Homo sapiens: one gene and its partner. The protein of the gene in region 2 interacts with the protein of the main gene of each other region in a pairwise test. Each region holds a gene or a part of one and is shown on either strand. Other genes may lie near its edges.

Region 1 (7,113 bases), on a different chromosome or scaffold from region 2:
TTTAAAAGCTTTAAAGGATGAAAAAGCTGCACTACTCTCCTCTATAGCACAACTTCAGGTTAAACCAGTCAAGCCTTCTTCGGTCTTTCTGTCCCTTCCCTTTCCCTTCTCCGCAGGTGGCTTTATCTGGAGGATTTCCAGGAAGGCTGGAGACAGGCATCTCTAATTTGGGTTCTGCCTCCTAGGAGCCAGAGGTGAGCTGGCAAAGTCCACTCTGGAAACCCTGCAGCTTCCTCACTCCACGAAGTCCTAATCTCTGCAGCTGCAGTGGTTTTGGAGGAGGACAGATGGGGAGAAAAGTGGGAATGTAACTGCAGTGTCTTTGAAGGCTGGATTCCCTGAAGGATTTTGGGGAACACAGCAGGGAAAGATGGAAATGGGCCCTGGGCAGTTCTCAAACAGGAACTGCAGATTCTGATACGCTAGTGCTCCCGGCAAACGCCAAGGATTCCAAAGAAATTGTCTGAGATGCAGAGGAGGCCAGAAAAGCCAGACTAAACATCCAAAGAGGTGGGGATATTAGAGGTGAGGGGCAATAAAAAAGAGAGAGAAAGAGACCTTACAAGACAAAGAGAGGCAAGGAAGAGAAATGAGGTGGTATAAAAGGGACCCCTAGAGACAATTTCAAAAGATGTGCTGGAGAGCAGACAGTTATTTATTTGAAGTCTGCAGCAATGTCACTGAGACTGCTGAAAATGAAAGAGAGAAGGAAACATTTCCACTCAACATTACTTTTTAATTGTTTATTCCATAGACTAGAAGTTAATTGACTTTTCTCTACATCCATGGTTCTGGGCCTCAGTTTCCTCATCTACAAAGCAAGGGGTTTGGACTAGATACCTTACAGGGTCTCTGCCTAACTTGATCCTCTCTGTCAACCTATGAGCCAGGGACTCCAAGACCAAGCATTTATCAGTTTTGATACCTAATTCCCCCCTTTTTCCTCTACCACCCCTCTTTATCAATGCAGTGTCAACACCTGCACCATTCATCGAACTGATGCCAATGCTCAATGATGACAGGGAGTATGGCTCAATTATGACAAATGATTAGTCCTTCTGCCCTGGAGTAAGGAAAGAAGGAATAGACAAGGCAGTATGATTTATACTGTGGATTTCCAATGAGAGGTTCTTCTCGAATTTTCAATTACAAATTTCATCCATTTAAATAAATTATAAATTCCTTTGAGGGGTTCCAAATGGTTGGACTGATCAAAGGGCCAAAGAGCCCTATTTGATGGCCCCCACACCCGATTTGAGGGAAAATTTATTTCATTTCATCCCCAAAATTGGATTTGCTTATTTCGTGGAAATCCAGCACGCACTAGCCATGCTTTTTTCTCATCTTTCTGCCTCATGCCCATTCTGCCAACCTGCTTCAGTGCAGCATTTTCTGGGGTTATTAAATACCCAAGGCTTAATGAGAGTGCATTCAAAAGTAAGTTGTTCAATGATGTAGGATCACCCCCTACTCCCCCCCACCACACACACACAAACACACGTAGGCAGTTTAAATGATAGTGGGGGTAAAATGTGTTTTCACAAGAGTTTCATTTTAAATTTGTCTCAACCTGAAATTCCTTTAGAAATTAAAATAAATATTAATATGTAGAAATAAAACTCCCCAGCTTTTCTTGCCTTCAACTGGAAAGTGATACACAAATAGTATGTACTTAGTGTTCTCCACAACCACCAACAATTCTATTTTATTTTAGTTTCCAAAATACGGACAGGAGGGCAACTCTAGAAAAATGGATTCCCACTCTGGCATCTCACAGGGCACTGATCAGGCAATGCGGAGCACTCATCATTTCCACCATGCAGGGAGCATCAGCCTCTCCTCGCTCCTTCCACGTACACATTCTTGTACCCCTGAGGGTATTCATCATTCTGATTTCCACCCGGGGTTTGACCTTGCAAAGACCCTTCTTCCAGTTTCTGGGCAAGGAACAACCCATTTTAACTCAAAACACAAAACGACCTTTTATCCTTTAAAGAAATACTACCAAATGTAACACACCTTGATTTACATTTTTTAACCCCAGATTCCGGATGGCGAACACGGAATGCAAAGGCAGGTAACTAGTTTGGGTCTGACAGTCCCCATTCAGCGACCGAGCCTGTGACTCCGTTCAAAATCGACAGTGCAGTAGAGCATCTTTCCCTTTTCTGCCCATTCACCATTGTGACAAAAATCAAAGACGAAAAAAATTATCTACTCATTTCTGAATACTGAGAGAAATGTGCTCATTTTGCGCCTGACTCCGTGGATCTTAAACACTAACATCCCGCTCAGAGATCAACCATGATTTCCATACCAATCTCATCCACTCAGTTTTACTTAGCAAACACCTTTGCTGCCCTTCCACAGTGAGAAAAATGGTGCACCAATCCCACGGATGACAGGTTGCTACTCGACTGTACCCGCTCAATAGTTTTATCAGCAACCGGAAAACTTCACAATCGGTCAATTAGCTACTTAAATCTGTCTAAGACAAACTAAGAAAGCATCTCAGTTTCACCTGTCTTAAATCTAGTCTAAGACAATCCCCCAAACACGCCGCATATAAACACTCCCCCTTCCCCCACCCCCAATATTCCAAAAGATCCCCCATGGACTAAGAGCACATTCAGATCGCCAGCATTAAGCAAGGAAATTGTCCCCATGCATTTAGACGCATCTATGCAAAGCAAAGTATGTGACAATAGCCAAAGCATTTCTCTGACAGTTGGTTGCACTACACATGCAGAAATGCAACGAAGATTGTATTTTCCACTTACAGTTACAGCGCTGCGCACGGTCACTTAACGAAAATGATAAAACTCAACAGTTCTTTTTAAAAATATATATTTAATTCGGGTAAACGCTTAAGCCGTCTCTGTGTGTGGTTCTCTCTCGCTCTCTTTTTCTCTGGAGCTCTGGGCTGCTTAAATCCCTCTTGGATCGCGCCTTGCAAGCCCAGCCGCTGCCGCAACACGCTCGGGTAAATCTCTGCTGCAGATTGGGAATCCCATAGAAAACCTAGGGTCCCTGGAGCTGGATGCGCAGGCGCGCGAGCCTCCGCCTCTCCAGGCACCCCCTCCCCTTTCCTCTCTTCCCTCCCCCCAGCTCCGCAGCCCCAGCTAGGAGAACTCGGGAGCCTGTGACCAAAAGCCGCCTGGCGATGGCGCATGCTCAGTCGGAGGGGCTCGGAGTTTCCGCGGGTGGATTCCACGTCTCCAGATTTTAGCAAAAGCTCAAAAGGAAAGTATATAGGAAAAGGGAGTCCGGCTACCGGAGCAACCCGCACCTGGACGGGCGCGAGGGACTGCGGGTTACCCGGACTCGCCACGCCCAGTGGTTACCGAACCTGGGGGCTGAAGGCCGAGGCCAGAGATGGAACACGTGGAGCCGCTTTTCCCGCTGCTTTCTGTCCTAGCCGACCCCCGGCCCACCCTTTGTTAGGCTGTAAGGTGAAGGAGAAAACTGCAGAAATCTCCGAAAGAAGACTTCCCAGCAAGCTGTGAGCACGTCTACCTGGCTTACTGAAGGAACGGTTATGGTGGTCATTTTGTCATGGGCCATTTCATCAGAGGGTCTTCTGCTAGGAGTACTGGGAGCCGGGTCCTGCAGCACCCAGTGCCCCGGACAGTCTCGGTCCAGAACGGCGTTGAAAAAATGTGTGTTAAAGGGAGCTGGGATCCGAGGCTTCTTGCCCTGTGTACCCTGAGCCAAGCGCCTTCTGTATGCACTTAAGTGTTTTTAACATATGCTTTGCGTCTGGGGTGGGAGGGGGTGGGTGAAAGGGCGGGAATGAACCATTTTGCGAACCCACGTTTAAGGGCTCTGATTAGGCCATCTTATAAAGCCCCCTTTGTGTCCTTGAACAACTAACAGGTTTGCCAGCCCTCCCCCCGGCTCCCCATTGGCCTGCCAAAGCCTAGAAGGCTTGGCAAGGAGTAGTGCCCAATAAATGTTTGGTCGGTCGCTTCCCTACCAGAAAAGCAAGGAGAATTCCCAGATGTTCCCAACCAGACCAGTTTTCCTCAAGTGTGTATGTTGTACATGAACTCATTCAACAATTATTCATGGAAGCATTTGCAAAACTATTAGACATTCCTTTATGCTTTGGGAATAAGTGCGGTTAACAAAACCCCCTCCTGGGCTTTACATTCAGGTGGGAGTTTTATTTTCAAGGGAGGGAAGTTCTGGGGGCGAGATGAAGATCGAGGTTCTCCTTAAGCAGAGCGCTGTACAATTTGCACAGCGTCTTCACACACCTTATCATGTTCAGGAAAACTGTAGAGTTGACCTACCCTTCGGTGCTGGGGACACCAAGAGCGTCTCCCGTGGCAAATGAGCTCTAAATTGACAAATCTCCAGCTGCTCCTGGTTCCAAGTCGAGGAGTCCAGCTTTGAACAAACTTGAGACTACTTAAGTGGGCACCAGGAGAAACTCCGCCAGACAAGTCTGTGGCTGTCGACATGCTAAGTGAGGGCCTCAGGCAGTGATGCCTAAGCCTCATTCGCTGCCAACCTAGCCAGCCCAGAACCCAGGAACTGGCTTCCCGGGCAGGACGCCTCGGGAAGGTTGCGCAAAGGGGGAGCGCGCTCTCGGGACTCCCGGGACACCGCCCGCGGCTGTCCCCTCTCGGCAGGGCTCTTCCGCCAGTGCTGGTGACCGCGGAAACCCGGAGCGCGGAGTCGCGCGGACCACGGCGCGCGGCCCCGGCGGGCTGCGGCAGCCGAGCACGTTTAGAATCTGGCGGGCGCCAGCCCTTCGCTCTGGAGCCGCAGTGCGCACTGCGCTGCGGGGCTCCCGGGCGCGCCGGGCTGCTCCTGTTTCCTGGGACTGGCAGGGGGAGTCAGTCCTGAATAAGTCACTTTTTCTTTTTAGCTAGAAAAACGACTTTCAAAAGGCTTTCAAAATCTCGTCTTTGGTCGATTTCCCCTACTACAGCATTTTACGCTGAGTTCTAGTTTCTCTCTCGAGAACAGCCTCCGCACTGTAATCTGCATCAACCCAAAGGGTCATGATGCCATTTCTCCACTTCAACGAGATATACCTATTTATTGCACCCTGGAGGTCTCTTTCGTGGCGGTGTTCGATTTTAGATAACTTACTTGCAACTTGTGTTTAGGAAAAAATGTACACTGATACTTTAAACCATGCTCTGTTGTAGGGTACGATTGATATCGACGCGTGCGCTTTTGTAAAGTAGCTTTGTCTACGTGGGCGGGCAGATTTTTTAAAGTTCCATTTGCACTGCAGCGCTGTTTGCGTCCTAAATGCGATATTGTAATGTTTAATATCCAGCTATTATGTAGCTTTATCTTTTTCAGCTTCTAATATTTTGTTGCTGTTTAATTTTTTTGGCATGCCTTTTAGTCGAGTTGTATATACGAAGTCACAGTAAGAAAGCCAATTCTAAGACTCCTAAGGAATATTATCGTTTAAATTACAGAAGGCAAATCCCCTCTTTAGGATGGGAGAATGTACTTGAAGGGAGGAATGTGGCAGGGTCCCTCAGAAGTGAGGGAGCCCGCTGTTCCTCCTTCAGGCATTTGCGGATGGCACTGGTGATCACAAAAAAGCGGAGATTACGCTGCCGGGCGCTCCTGTGGTAGAGGGACTGGAACACTGTCCCATGTTGAGTGAAGAATGCCATCAGCTTTACCAGTTGTCCCGTTACCTAAAGCCACGTCCCCAACTCTACAACTTTCACACCCTGGATTTTTTTTGGGGGGTGGGGGGGTATAGAGGAGGAGGAGGAAGGTGCTGTAGGTAGGGGCTTGTTTCTTCCTTCCTGTGTATCTGGTAGAATCCTCAATTAACCAGAAACAACTGAAGAGCTATTTTTCTTCCTTCAGTTGCAAATTATGTTCTTTATAGAAATTTCTAGCCTTACTTCCACCTTATTTCTTCCCAGATTCAAACAAACAAACAATACCAACAGTAGATTTTCAGGTGTAAAATACTCCATGTAATATTCTCACTCGCTTTGTGACGTGGACGAATTGAAAACGGAGAATGACAGTAAAAGTGTGAAATTCCAGTAGTGTAACAGGTCTAAGCTCATAGTCCTGGGAACTCCTGGTAATATTATTTATTAGAAAATTTGTGTGTAAAATATATGAGCCAAGAAGGGTGGAACTTAAGGCATGGGGATATTTTTTAAAAATTGGAAGAAAACTTGAAAGTCATTATTAGAAAATGAAAAGAGACCGGAATTGAAGAATGGATTTATACTCGTTTATTCTTAAAGAATAATGATAGTAATTTACTTCTATGGATAGCATACCTTTATTCCAAAAGCAAAGGGTATTAATCATTACAGAAAAGGTGTGTTACGTAAGATAATTATATTACGTAAGATTTTTTTTTGTTTTTCTGAGAGAGACAGGGGTCTCGCTCTGTTGCCCAGGCTGGAGTGCAGTGGCAGGATCATAGCTTATTGTGGCCTCAAACTCCTGGGCTCAAGTGATCCTCCCGCCTCAGCTTCCCAAGTGGCTGGTACTACAGACACACACCACCACGCTTGGCTAATTTTATTATATTTTTGTAGAAACAGGTGTCTTGCCATGTTGCCCAGGCTGGTCTGAAACTCCTGGTCTTAAGCAATCCTCCTGCTTTGGCCTCCCAAAGTGCTGAGATTATAGGCATGAGCCATCTTTTCCAGTCCTATTCTGACTTTTTAAATCTTTTTTTAAAAGATGCAGATAGACCAACAAAATAAAATAACTTCCCTATAGTCAAATAGGAAGTATCTCTTAGAATACAGCCCTACAACAGTTTTTCTGACTCATAGACTGTCTCATTGTATATGTCTGTGCCCCTTCTACATGTTTTTCTAAAATACTGAAAAAAATGCAAGACCATGAAGCAGTGATTCCCATGCAGTTAATGGGTGAGTTTTAGGCCTCCTTCTGCAGAGAAGGGAATAAAAATTCTAGTTTTAATGAACTTGATTGATCATGTCTCCCAGTCCTCCTCTGATTTCACTCTGTAATCCATGACTGGATCTAAATTCAGTCTGAAAGATCACTCTGTCTGTAGACACTAATTTCCTCAAAATTTGAACAATCCACAATAAAAGTTTCATAAGGCCCTGCCAGATGAATCACCGTGAAAGA
Region 2 (6,399 bases):
GGCAACCACAGAGCTCTGGGGTCCAGCCCATCTTGCTGAGTTTGGATTTATTACCTGGGCTACAAAGGGTTAAGTCAAATGCCTTCAAATGCCTATATCCCTGAGGGAAGGAAGAGGAAGAAGCGAAAGGCTCTCCTAAAATTTATTTTTGTAAGAAAAAGAAAAGGTAAAAAGAACTGTTCACTGACCAAAGCTGACCCCTTCCCACAGGGGTGCTGCAGGGGACCCCAACCCACACGTCAATCTGATTGGGCCAGAAAGCCTTTCCTGAATGTTTCAGACCCACCCCAATCCCAAACCATTTATGGCCCAGAGACAATGGAGTTATTTTAAATAAACCCGATTTTATTTATGGAGATGGCCACTCCTTCTGGAACTATCCCGTGCAGCTATCCTTGTCCCTGAGGATCTCACTAGGCGGGCAGCCAGAGAAAGCTGCTAGGGAGCTGCAGCTCCAACTGAAAATTATCTCCAGCAAATCGTTTCATGGGTCTCTCAGTACCTGCGTTTTTGTTTTTGTTTTTTTTTTTTTTTTGTTTTTTTTTGAGATAGTCTCACTCTGTTGCCCAGGCTGGAGTGCAGTGGCAGGATCTCAGCTAACTGCAACCTCCACCTCCTGGGTTCAAGCGATTCTCCCGCCTCAGCCTCCCCAGTAGCTGGGATTACAGGCACCCAACACCACGCCTGTCTAATTTTTGTATTTTTTTAGACGATGTTTTGCCATGTTGGTCAGGCTGGTCTTGAACTCCTGACCTCAAATGATCCGTCCACCTCAGCTTCCCAAAGTCCTGGGATTATAGGCATGAGCTACCACATCCCGCCAGCACCTGGCACTTTTACTGCAGCTTCTTAAGCCCCCAGATCCCTGCATACTGGCAACACCTGTGCTTGGGGTGCGATTCATTTGCGTGGGATCCATTCCTGCCATCTCAGAGCAGCGGTTCTCAGATGCACGTGCATATCCTGGTGTATCTCATTCATTGAGAAGCGGGCCTGCAAAAGATTAACTAATAATAAAGCGCTCAAGTCTGTGGCCGACTTGACTCATGCAATGAGCAGATTCAAGATGATCCGCCTATCAGTGTCACTTTGTATTCTGATAAGCCTTCGTGAATGGAACGAGCTCTGCCATGGCCTGGGACATTCTGTATTATCTTCCAGCCTCACGCCTCATGCCTCCCTTCTCAGTTCTTACCTTGGCCCCTCCCTCTTTCCTGTCAAGGTCTTTGCACTTGCAGAGCCTTTTGCTGGAGACCTCTTTTCGAGGCCTTTGTGTTGCTCTATTTCCTTCTTTGGAACTCAGCTCAAAAATGGAAATTTTCCAGGTACTGACTTAGAGGGGTCTTAAGAGAGCTTTTGGGGAAGGGAGGTGAGAAGTTGGAAATAGCTTGTTCTTTGATCTACATGGAGGTTTCAGAGTGTGCACATAAGCAAAAATTATTCACTGAGTTGTCAACTTAAAATCTGGAGAGTCACTGTATGTAAGTAAACCTAAAAACGCAAACTTAAAAAAAGAAACAAATTTCCACCTCTTCCCTGTCTCCTGTTATTCCTATTACTGTCAACCATGGCATGTTCATTTCTATCCTGGCATAATATTATATTATTTGCTTGTATATTTGTAAATTGTATCTCCTGCTAGAATGTAAGCTGCATGAGGACAGATACTCTGTCTTGTCCACTGCTGCATCTTTCAGAGAATAGCATAGTGCCTGTTACACAGTAGATACTTTAAAAAGAAGTGAATAAATAGATGGTTGGATGAATAAAAAGGTTTGGATTTAATGAAGGGGAAAAAAAGAGGCAGAGGAGGTGAGCCTGAGGCTAGAACCGCTCACTCGACCCCCCACCCCCAGCCTACAGTTGTGGGGTCTTGCTCTGTAAGCCCAAGTCCAGAAGCTTGTTCCCTGCCTGGAGGACCGCCGTGGCATGTCTATACCTCGTTGGGGTCATCCTGGTCGGCATAGATTAGGAAGCCCGTAAAGAGGCTGTCTGTCCAGTAAGGGTCATAGAAGAGCCCGTTCTGCTCTGAGTAGAAGATCTGCAGCCAAACTTCGTCACCCTGCTTGAGAGCCAGGATGGTGGAGCCTGAGGCCACATCGTGGTTGCCGGTGTTGGCATCAAAGGTCCGGATGCGGTACTGGCCGTTGTGCACCAGGCCGATGGCCAGGTGCTTGTTGGCCAGCGTGATGTCGTAGGTGAAGTAGTAGATCCCAGGCACGCCGCAGACGAACTTGCCGCTGGAAGCATTGTAGTGGCCACCCTCGTTCATCAGAATCTTGTCAAACTTGATGGGCAGCCGCTCCCGTGGGTAGCTCTTGGTCACTGCCACCGAGAAAGCTGACTTGGTATGGCCACTGCCACAGCTGCAGGGGCCTGGGAGGCCTGGCTCCCCCTTCTTGCCCTTGGGCCCCTTCTTGCCTGGTGTGCCATGCTTCCCGGGGGTACCGTTGACCCCCTTGGGGCCACGGGGGCCAGCCCGCCCAATGGCCCCGGCTTTGCCCTTTGGTCCTGGCTTTCCCCGGTTACCTGTCCGGCCAGGTGGACCTGGAAGACAGAGCAGCTGGTGTTATGGAGGGTCCTCACAGACCTAGGCAGAGGGGTGCGGTGCGGCTTGGTCTTCCAATCTTGGAGAAGGAGTGCTTGGGTAATAGAAAGAACAAGAAGGCTTTGCAGACATATAGAAGTGGGTGTAAATCCTAATGCTAGCTCTCTGGAAAATGGAAATGATGATACTTACCTTCAAGAATCACTGTGGATCAGGGCAAAAAGAATAACTTGTAACAGTTCACACCCTTTCCTTTTCCTGCCTTCTAAGGAAGGGTCTGGTCTGTCTGCCAGCTCAATCCTTCCATGGGCTGCGCTGGTAATGGGTTGAGAAGAGAACTGGAAAAAGCCTCTTGATTTCAACACGTTGATCTTAGTAAAATCCCTGCCTAGTGCATATAAGCCCTGCCCACGTGTACAAGGATTTTATTGCAGCATTGCTTATAATAGCAAAAAATAGGAACAACTAAATGCCCATCCAAAGGCAAATGATAAAAAACATTACGGTCCATCTATACTGTGGATTTCTATGCAGGAGTTAAAAAAAAAAGTAGAGTTACGTGTGCTCTATGAAACCTTCTCTAACATACACTAAGAGGAAAGAGCAGGTGGCCAGACCCTTTGTGTTAAAAGGAAGGCAGGCCGGGCAAGGTGGCTCGCGTCTATAATCCCAGCACTTTGGGAAGCTGGGACTGGAGGATTGCTTGAGGCCAGGAGTTTGAGACCAGCCTGGGCAATGTAGCCAGACAGTCTCTACAAAAAATACAAAAATTAGTCAGGCATGGTGGCATATGCCTTTAGCCCCATCTACTTGGGAGGCTGAGGTGACAGGATCCCTTGAGCCCACGAGTTCCAGGTTACAGTGAGCTATGATTGTGTCACTGCATTCCAGCCTGGGCAACAGAGTAAGACCTTGTCTCTAAAAAATAAAAATTAGAAAAACAAAAGGAATGGAATCCACAATGCCAATTTTTTTTTTTTTTTTTTGAGACGGAATCTTGCTCTGTCGCCCAGGCTGGAGCACAGTGGCGCGATCTCCGCTCACTGCAAGCTCCGCCTCCCAGGTTCACACCATTCTTCTGCCTCAGCCTCCTGAGTAGCTGGGACTACAGGCACCTGCCACCACGCCCGGCTAATTTTTTGTATATTTAGTAGAGATGGGGTTTCACCGTGTTAGCCAGGATGGTCTTAAACTCCTGACCTCGTGATCTGCCCACCTCGGCCTCCCAAAGTGCTGGGATTACAGGCGTGAGCCACCACACCTGGCCCACAGTGCTAAATATTTCTACACCCATTTAAACGCATAGAAGAGTGCTTGGCCTATAGCAAACATTCCTAAATACTAGCTGGCATTCCCTGCAGAACAATTCCCCCAGTTGTGTTTTCCTTTAGAAGGCTTTTTGATGTTTCATACTCCAATGTTTCATAAAATGCACATTTCTCTCAATCCAACATTTTTGGCTACTGATTGCATAAAATCAATTTAGTTTATGTCCCCTCAACTCAATACAACATTTTAAGCAAAACCTATATGGATAATGACTTGAGTTCACTCGACACAAGGTTGTTAGAACCATATGAACTGGGTCAAGGAAGTAAAGTTTTAGGCATTTTACATCCTAACAAGTTACTTTGTTTCTTATACATTTGTATGTAGGCATTTCACTGTGTTTTAGAGTTTTGAGTTAATCTGTAATGCATCTGAATTTTTCCTATTTTACATAATTCGGAAATAGGTTTCCAAATTGCATTTTGTTACTGAACACTTGATTTTCAGGAACAGAGTGCTTATGTTAAGTGCCTGACAATGCCTGGTATTATTAAATACATATGTAAATATATAGAAAAAGGCCAGGAAAGATACATACCTAACCAATTAATAGTGGTTACCTCTGGAGGGTGAGGGAAGGATGAGAAGGGGTAGTAAGTAAGGAGGACTTTTGCTTTATGTGTATTGTTTGAATATATTACAATGAGACTGTATTTGTATATTACTCATATAATTAAAAATAAACAAAAAGAATGGGAAAAAATAAAACTCAGAAAAGTCACAAAGCTATTTCTTGAAAAAATGAAAATAAACAAAAGGTGGGAAAAGGGGCCAAGAGAAGAGGAATAGAGACAGAATCTTTTTTTTTTTTTTTTTAAAGATAGAGTCTCACGCTGTTACGCAGGCTGGAGTGCAGTGGCGCGATCATAGCTCACTGTAACCTCAAACTCTTGGGCTTGAGTAATCTTCCTGCCTCAGCCTCCTGAGTAGCTGGGACTTCAGGCACACACCACCACACTTAGTTAATTTTAAAATTTTTTGTAGAAATGGTGTCTCCCTATGTTGCCCAGTCTGGTCTCAAACTCCTGGCCTCCCAGTACTCTTGCCTTGGCCTCCCAAACTGCTGAAATTACAGGCATGAGCCACCACGCAGCCTCCAAGTCATTTTGACTTGGGGTTTTTGGCGGGAGACAAATAGATAAAAAAGCTTACCAGGAGGTCCTACCATGTATTATATAATGTGCTTTCCTCTTCTTTACCTTTTTTGAGAGACTTTGGGAAAAGCTGACTTTACTCTTGAAAGACTTTTCTGGAGGTGAATTTGTATGTGTGGTGATGGCGGGTGGTTGGATGTTATCCTGAATTGGCCCCAGGGTGACAAGCTTTGTTTGAGTTACATGCGCTGGGACTCTCCCAACACTGCCTTCCTTGGTGTGGTGGCTTCCTTCTCTGCAGAGACTCAACACACAGCAGAACAGATGGCCAAAGGCAGCCCCAGTACATGGTAGAACTTCCTGGTAAGCTTTATCTATTTGGGGAAGTCAACAGCAGAGACTCTGTCCCTCAGGATCCATAGGCAAATCTCAGGGAAAACTCTAGCTGGCCTGCTTGGAGCACATGTCCAGACCTGAGTCTGCCGCCGTGGTCAGGAAATTGGATATCATGATACCAGTGCCCAGCACGCTGGAAGACCCACCCCAGTTAAAGCTATGATAGTTACTTTTATACTAATCTCCTGGGGAGGAGGTACCTTTGAAGGAATTAGTTTGGTGTGGTAGGAAAAGACCTGGATTTGGAGTCAGCTATCTGCATGCTATGTGAGCTCAATAAGTCAATTACAGGGTGCCTAACATTTATTGTATGTCTATGCTGAGACTGGTCCTTCATACATTGTTTTATTTCATCTTTACCACAACCTTGTGAGACAGGTGCTATTATTATCCATATTTTAGAGATGAGGAAACCATGGTTTGGAGAGAAGTTAAGTAGTTTGTCAAAATCAGTGTCCAGGTTTGTTTCCAAAGTTCACGTTCTTGCGAGGATGACATTTTGCTATCAACTGAATCACTCTGACTCTCAGTATCCTCATCTGTAACATGGGGAAAATAAGAATCCCTCCGGCACACGATATGGATGGTCAGATGGGCAACATGTTCAAAAGTGCTTTGTCAATATTAAAATGCCATACAAATAAAAATTATTATATTTCTCTACTGCTTAAAATGTAGGCTTAGGGATGCTGCTGACACTGAAAAGTGCTTGGTTGCTGGGGTGAAAGTTTGGAGATATAAGGAATGTCACAACGGAAAGGTCTGTAGAGTATATCCATTCTGCTCGCCGTCTGCCTGGCATCCCTTCCTTTGGGGAGTTGCCCTTCACCATTTCATTTCATACGGTCCTAGCGGGGCTGTCAGTCACAATGACTGACTGCCCCCACCACCCACTCACACACACGCAGGGGTGGGTCCATGAGCCTGCCCTGCAAATGGAGGCACCTCACCTCCTTGGTCAAGGGAATTGGTCCAGGATACGCATGTGGCCAAGGAGAATTGGCTGTTCTGAGATTTGCTCTGTGGATGAAG

What was found. Proteins that work in one complex are often made in the same cells at the same time.
Region 1: the proteins of C1QTNF2 (region 2) and VSNL1 interact in binary tests that used the Homo sapiens proteins (3 or more experiments, as listed by UniProt).

Annotation. Positions count from the first base shown.
Region 1 is NC_000002.12:17,536,586-17,543,698, reverse strand, and holds the start of VSNL1 (visinin-like protein 1), read right to left. Parts: upstream 3,004-7,113; 5' UTR 2,781-3,003; intron 1-2,780.
Region 2 is NC_000005.10:160,347,235-160,353,633, forward strand, and holds the end of C1QTNF2 (complement C1q tumor necrosis factor-related protein 2 isoform 1 precursor), read right to left. Parts: intron 2,643-6,399; coding exon of another isoform or gene 2,548-2,642; coding exon 1,934-2,547; 3' UTR 520-1,933; downstream 1-519. UniProt on the Homo sapiens protein: Involved in the regulation of lipid metabolism in adipose tissue and liver.